2 linked regions of the Homo sapiens genome follow. The protein of the gene in region 2 interacts with the protein of the main gene of each other region in a pairwise test. Each region holds a gene or a part of one and is shown on either strand. Other genes may lie near its edges.

Region 1 (3,404 bases), on a different chromosome or scaffold from region 2:
GGGAAGCTTGGAGCTGCAAGCTTGCTTTGTTTTTACTCCTAAAAATGAAGTTACTCTTCACTTTTCAGCAAGCACATAACTAGGTTTGAATGATATGATTAGACATATCATAGTTTTTCATAAATGAAAAAGACCAAGCCAAAAAAAAAAAAAAAAATGTGCTAAGGCTGCTGTATTAATCACACAAGGAACTAATGCAAAAGAACTTGGGTATAGGCTGGATGCAGTGGCTCACACCTGTAATCCCAGCACTTTGGGAGGCCGAGGTGGGCAGATCATGAGGTCAAGAGATCGAGACCATCCTGGCCAACATGGTGAAACCCCATCTCTAATAAAAATACAAAAATTAGCCTGTCGTGGTGTGGCACATGCCTGTAGTCCCAGCTACTCAGGAGGCTGAGGCAGGAGAATCGCTTGAACCCAGGAAGTGGAGGTCGCAGTGAGCCAAGATCATGCCACTGTACTCCAGCCTGGCGACAGACACTCCAGCCCAACAGAGCAAGGCACTGTCTCAAAAAATAAAATAAATAAAATAAATAAAATTCTAAAAAAGAAAAAAAAGAACTTGGGTATGATACAGATGATTAACTGACATAAAATGGGCAATACTCAAAACCCAGTGAACACTACACATTCCAAAAAGGGACTCGCTTCCTGAGCTCAACATATTATAGCAGCGATTCTCAACCTGGCTGCACATCAGAATCACCTTAAAGGCTATTGCTAATGCCTGTGCCCCGTCCCAGATCCGTCAAATCAGAATCCCTGGGGTAAGGCCAGGCTTTGACTCATTTTTTTAAGAAGCTCCCCAGGTGATTCTTTTTTTTTTTTTTTTTTTTTTTTTGAGACGGAGTCTCACTCTGCCGCCCAGGCTGGAGTGCAGCGGCGCAATCTCAGCTCACTGCAAGCTCCACCTCCCAGGTTCAAGCGATTCTCCTGCCTCAGCCTCCTGAGTAGCTGGGACTACAGGCACCCACCACCTCGCCTGGCTATTTTTTTGTATTTTTAGTAGAGATGGGGTTTCACTGTGTTAGCCAGGATGGTCTCGATCTCCTAACCTCGTGATCCACCCGTCTCGGCCTCCCAAAGTGCTGGGATTACAGGCATAAGACACCGCGCCCGGCCCCTCAGGTGATTCTTTAAGTGCAGCCAAGGTTGGGAGGTTGGAATCGTTGCTTTAAAAGGAAGAGTTATCACAAGAAAATCCAGCAAGGAACACCTAAGGGTTACAAAGGATGTACTAAAACATCAAACACCCAATTAAGTGACAGCCAGCATTATTTTTATTATTGACCCCATAACTGTCATTCATATCATTATTTCTGCTGCTCCTATAACCTCTACTGACACAAAGCATCAAAGTGAGGGAGGGAAGGATAGCAAAGAGGACACTTTCAAGTCCAGACTCACCAACAAAAAAACTTGAACTCTCTAAATACTGCATGACTAATTTAAGGCAGAAAAATAAGTGTCTTAAAGGAACAAGGGTCAAATTGGTTAAATGTGCCTTCATTTAGAAAAGAGCTATATTTTTTATACTCTTAATATAATTATAAATCAGACAATAATCTGTCTAAAAGGTTTGGTCATTATGTCAGTCAGCAGTTTCAAACAGAACATCCCAACACCCAATTAAAATACCAAGTGTGGCCAGGAGCAGTGGCTCATGCCTGTCATCTCAGCACTTTCAGAGGCTGAGGCAGGCGGATCACGAGGTCAGGAGATCGAGACCACCCTGGCCAACATGGTGAAACCCCATCTCTACCAAAAATACAAAAATTAGCTGGGCGTGTTGGCACGTGCCTGTAATACCAGCTACTCGGGAGGCTGAGGCAGGAGAATCGCTTGAACCGGGGCATCGGAAGTTGCAGTCAGCCAAAATGGCGCCATTGCACTCCAGCCTGGCAACAGAGCAAGACTCCATCTTAAAAAAAAAAAAAAAAAAAAAGTGTGGCCGGGCGCGGTGGGCTCACGCCTATAATCCCAACACTTTGGGAGGCCAACGCAGGTGGATCACGAGGTCAGGAGTTTGAGATCAGCCTGGCCAACATTATGAAACCCCATCTCTATTAAAAATATAAAGATTAGCTGGGCGTGGTGACAGGCGCCTGTAATCCCAGCTACTCAGGAGGCTGAGGCAGAGAATTGCTTGAACCCAGGAGGCAGAGTGCAGTGAGCCAAGATTGCGCCACGGCACTGCAGCCTAGGAGACAGAGCAAGACTCCGTCTCGAAAAATAAATAAATTAATTAAATTAAATACCAAGTGTATTTTAGGTCTTCCTTAAAAAATTATCTTGAGTAAATGTTTTATCTCCATACCTTTGGTTTCTTTAATGACAATAGCGTTTAATAATCCTTTTCCTCTTACGGCAGTTACAACATCAGAAGGTAGCTTCATGAGTTCATTTCTCAAGATAATGCCCAATTTGTCTGCATTTTCAGCAAGGTTTTCTTCTTCTAAAACCTACGTTTAAAGAAAAATTATACAAATATTAAGACTGTCCTTTTTTTGTTTTTTGGAGGACAACGGGGACTGTAAACACAGGAAAAACATGACTAGATAAAATACCAGAGGAACTTAACTTTCATTGCTATTTTTCAAAGCCTGTATTAGTTTCTAATTAAACATACACTAGCTCAGAGTCTTGCTTTCATCACAAATCTATTGCCAATCATTCATGGCAAAATAAGGATTAAAGTTTATTTAATGCAACTCACATACTGTCATTAATTGAATACATCAATGGACGAAATGTAATTCCTAAACTGCAATAGTTTCTTCCCCCCTCACAAAGATCTGTCCTCAGAGATTACATAATAATTGTATACCTTCAGCAGGCACTTAAAAAATCAGTCTGAAAACATTATAAATCCACACTTGAAAGAAGACTTGCTTGCTAAGCAAAAAGACGGGTCTGGTAGGTGGGTCACAGTTGAGAGTTCTATGAGGGCCAGCCAGGGCCGAAGAACTCAAAGCGCCAGGTGACTGTGAACTCAGGAAGCCCACGGAGGAAATCCAGTCTACTAGGCCAAGTTTAAATTACTTTTTGAGAATATCTTGTTCCTAAAATTTTTCCTCTATACTTCATGTTTTCTAATATTTGGCATTCTTATTGAATTTTTTATTATACCAGTGGGCCCAAATTAAAAATCACTTCAACATTGCTTTAAAGAATAGACACTGTGTGGCTGTATCAGTCTTTACCTCAAGGGCTGCGATGGCCACTCGGCAGCCTAGTGGATTGCCACCGTATGTGGACCCATGCTCCCCTGGCTTAATGGTCAGCATGATGTCATCATCACACAGCACTGCAGACACCTGAAAGACAGTCAATTCACCATGTCATTTCTCAGCACTAAGCATTCTACTAAGCATCCTTTTCCCCAGAGTCTCGCTGTCACC
Region 2 (3,500 bases):
CACTGAATGCTTGGCTGTTACACAGCAGGCTGCTGGGTCTGGTGTACCCCAACCAGGTGGCCTCCCAGCTGCCAAATTGTGTGATTACAATTAGTTACCTCTATTCCTTTATCTGTTTATGTTCATTGTACTTGTTATTGTAATTGTGCAACTTAACCAGTGAACTTTGAGTTCAGAAAAGAACAAGGCTCAGCATGGTGGCTCACGCCTATAATCCCAGCACTTTGGGAGACCAAGGTGGGCGGATCACATGAGCCCAGGAATTTGAGACCAACCTAGGCAACATGGTGAAACCCCCTCTTTACTGAAAATACAAAACTAGCCAGGCACGGTGGTGTGCAGCCTGTAGTCCCAGCTACATGGGAGGCTGAGGCACAAGAATTGCTTGAACCCAGGAGACGGAGGTTGCAGTGAGCCAACAGCACGCCACTGCACTCCAGCCTAGGTGACAGAGTAAGAGTCTGTCTCAAAAAAAAAAAAAAAGAAATTACTGCTCACTTATATGGACAAACAAACTGAGAAGACTGGAGAGGGGATCTTAAAAGTCTAGAAGGACTCTGCACATAGATTACTTCATGAATGTTTTTAGGTTTTTGTTCTTTATAAAAACTAGGACTGGAAAACATAGGTCATTGATTATGGATGTGGCATATGAAAGAAAGACAACTTAACAATTCAAACAAACAAAACAAAACAAGATCTTGGCCCTACAAAGATTACCAAATAACTACATGTTTATATACATATAAAAGATTTATTTGCTAATAATATGTAATATGGTCTCGAACTCCCGACCTCAGGTGATCCGCCCGCCTCGGCCTCCCAAAGTGCTGGGATTATAGGCATGAGCCACTGTGCCTGGCCATATTTTTTATTTTTTGTAGAGATGAGGTCTCATGTTTCCCAGACTGGTCTGGAACTCCTGGCTCAAGTGATCCTCCCTTCTTGGCCTCCCAAAGTGTTGAGATTATAGGCATGAGCCATCACATCTGGCCTGATTATTTAATATTTTCATTTGCTTCCTCTTTGCACATAATATATAATTAGTAATATATAAAGTATGTATATATAAATGTATATTTATCTGCTAATCTTTGTTCTTAGGGCCAAGATCTTGTTTTGAGTTTTTTTTTTTTTTTTGGAGGCAGGGTCTTGCTCTGTTGACCAGGCTGGAATGCAGTAATGCGATCTCAGGTCACTGCAGCTTCCACCTCCCAGGCTCAAGTGATCCTCCCACCTCAGCCTCCCAAGTAGATGGAAGTACAAGTGCCTGCCACCTTGCCCAGCTATTTTGTGTGTGTGTGGAGACAGGGTCTCACTATGTTACTCAGGCTGGTTTTGAACTCCTGAGCTCAAGCGATCCTCCCACCTCAGCCTCCCAAAGTGCTAGGATTACATGCATGAGACACCACGCCCAACCTACATTTATATTTTTTAATCAACCGTATCCTTTACTTGATACTTTATCATACACTGTGTGGAAGACTGTAACTTCTTGAGTAAGATTTTATAATCCAAAATTGGGTAATATGATATTCATCTGTCATATTATTCAACTTTGGCCCTGCTAAAGTACTTCCAGTGAGATTATCCCTCTTCCCCCAGCCTTTCCTTTTTTAGAGCCTCTGTGAGGAGAAGTGAGAGACAGGGATGGGCTTGTTTGTACTCTTAGAAAGGCCAAATGATACAGAACATACAACAAATGACATCACAGTGCCTAGGAAAGTTAAAGCTGCTCCTAACGGGTCTGTTTTTACCCAGGGAGAAAAATGACTACTAATAGGATTGTGTGAGTTAGATTTCCCTGTGCCTTAAAGCTGTTTTAATAAAGAAAGGATGAAGCTGTTCCTAAGTTGTTAGGTTCGTTTGTTGTACTTTTCCACTAGAAGCCCTATATCTCTTGGCAAAGGGGAGCTGCTTCACATTTTCTCAGATCCTTCAGCTCACCAGGTTGGAACGGAGAGATGATTGACATTGGAGCTCTTCAGTGGGCAGAGACTGGTGGCCTGTTTGTCTGTAAAATGCCCCAGAGGAGCAGGTGGACTGACGTCTCTGCAGACTGCACCTTCCAGCAGGCTCTAGAGAAGAGAGTAAGACACAGGTAGCAATCCCAGAGGCAATAATCATGACAAAGGGCTTCCAGCAGATCCCAAGGTGGTTTGGGAGTCCTTTTGTAACACATCTTGGTCACCGTTCAATATTACATTGCTCTAAGATCATGATGGGTTCATTGATCCCGTCATGACTGGACATTTCTGCTTCTCATTTCTCAAAATCTTTCCTGGAAGCTTTTTTCCCCTGCTTTCCCTTCTGTTTGCCTAATACCAGTTAGTCATGTCTTCCATTACGTTATTTTTTGCCTCCTTCCCAAGGTGTGAATTCTGGTCTGAATTCATACTGCAGTCTCCATTCTTTTTATGTCTTTGCCCCAATCCTACTTCTTTGTTTCTGCTTTAATTCTCATTTCTCAATAAAAATAGTGCTGCACATCTACTGTGTGCTGTGTCTGAAGCAATCTATATCTTCATAGCCTAGTACAGAAAGGAAGGGCCCTTGTTCAGGAATACAATTGTTTATTCATTTCTTCAGCACACATTTTTGGAGTGTCTGTGTAAGACCTTGGGAATACATGGATAAATAAGACTGCTCAGCATTTTGGGAGGCCTACGTGGGAGGATCGCTTGAGCTGGGGATGTCTAGGATGTGGTGAGCTGTGTTTGCATCACTGCACTCCAGCCTGGGCAACAGAGTGAGAGAGACCCTGGCTCCAAAAAGAAAACACCATAAAATGAAATGATCCCTTAAATAGACTTCCTTTGTATACAATTAGTTGATCTCTTTGTTCATAAAACAGTAAAGTTTTATGAACTGCTTAGAAAATCTTTTCTTCGGCTTGGTTATTTAACATATTTCTGATGTGTTTTGTAAGAGCAGCTTAGCAATGATGAATAAAAAGGAGTATGAGCTCAGACATAGTGCTTATGCTTTTCTTAAAAGGAGGAAGGATTGTGATTTTTCTTTTTTCCTTTTTTTTTTTTTTTTTGAGATGGAGTCTTGCCCTGTCACCCAGGCTGGAGTGCAATGGCGCCATCTTGGCTCACTGCAACCTCCGCCTCCCAGGTTCAAACGATTCTCCTGCCTCAGCCTCCCGAGTAGCTGGGATTACAGGTGCCTGCCACCGCACCCAGCTAATTTTTGCAGTTTTAGTAGAGATAGGGGTTTCACCACCTTAGCCAGGCTGGTCTCGAACTCCTGACCTTGTGATCCACCCTCCTCGGCCTCCCAAAGTGCTAGGATTACAGGTGAGAACCACCGCGCCCGGCCTTTCCTTTTTTTTTTGAGACAGGGTCTTGCTCTGTCATCCAGGTTGGTGTGCTGTGATGCAGTCATGGCTAACTGCAGCCTTGACCTCCTGAGCTCAAGCGATCCTCCTTCCTCAGCCTCCCGTGTAGCTAAGATTACAGGCATGCACCACCATGCCTGGCTAATTTATTTTTAGT

The links. Proteins that work in one complex are often made in the same cells at the same time.
Region 1: the proteins of NUDT3 (region 2) and OAT interact in a two-hybrid assay, tested with the Homo sapiens proteins (one large-scale study listed by BioGRID and IntAct).

The regions. Positions count from the first base shown.
Region 1 is NC_000010.11:124,398,520-124,401,923, forward strand, and holds part of OAT (ornithine aminotransferase, mitochondrial isoform 1 precursor), read right to left. Parts: intron 3,321-3,404; coding exon 3,207-3,320; intron 2,466-3,206; coding exon 2,321-2,465; intron 1-2,320. UniProt on the Homo sapiens protein: Catalyzes the reversible interconversion of L-ornithine and 2-oxoglutarate to L-glutamate semialdehyde and L-glutamate.
Region 2 is NC_000006.12:34,382,670-34,386,169, reverse strand, and holds part of NUDT3 (diphosphoinositol polyphosphate phosphohydrolase 1), read left to right. Parts: intron 1-3,500. UniProt on the Homo sapiens protein: Cleaves a beta-phosphate from the diphosphate groups in PP-InsP5 (diphosphoinositol pentakisphosphate) and [PP]2-InsP4 (bisdiphosphoinositol tetrakisphosphate), suggesting that it may play a role in signal transduction.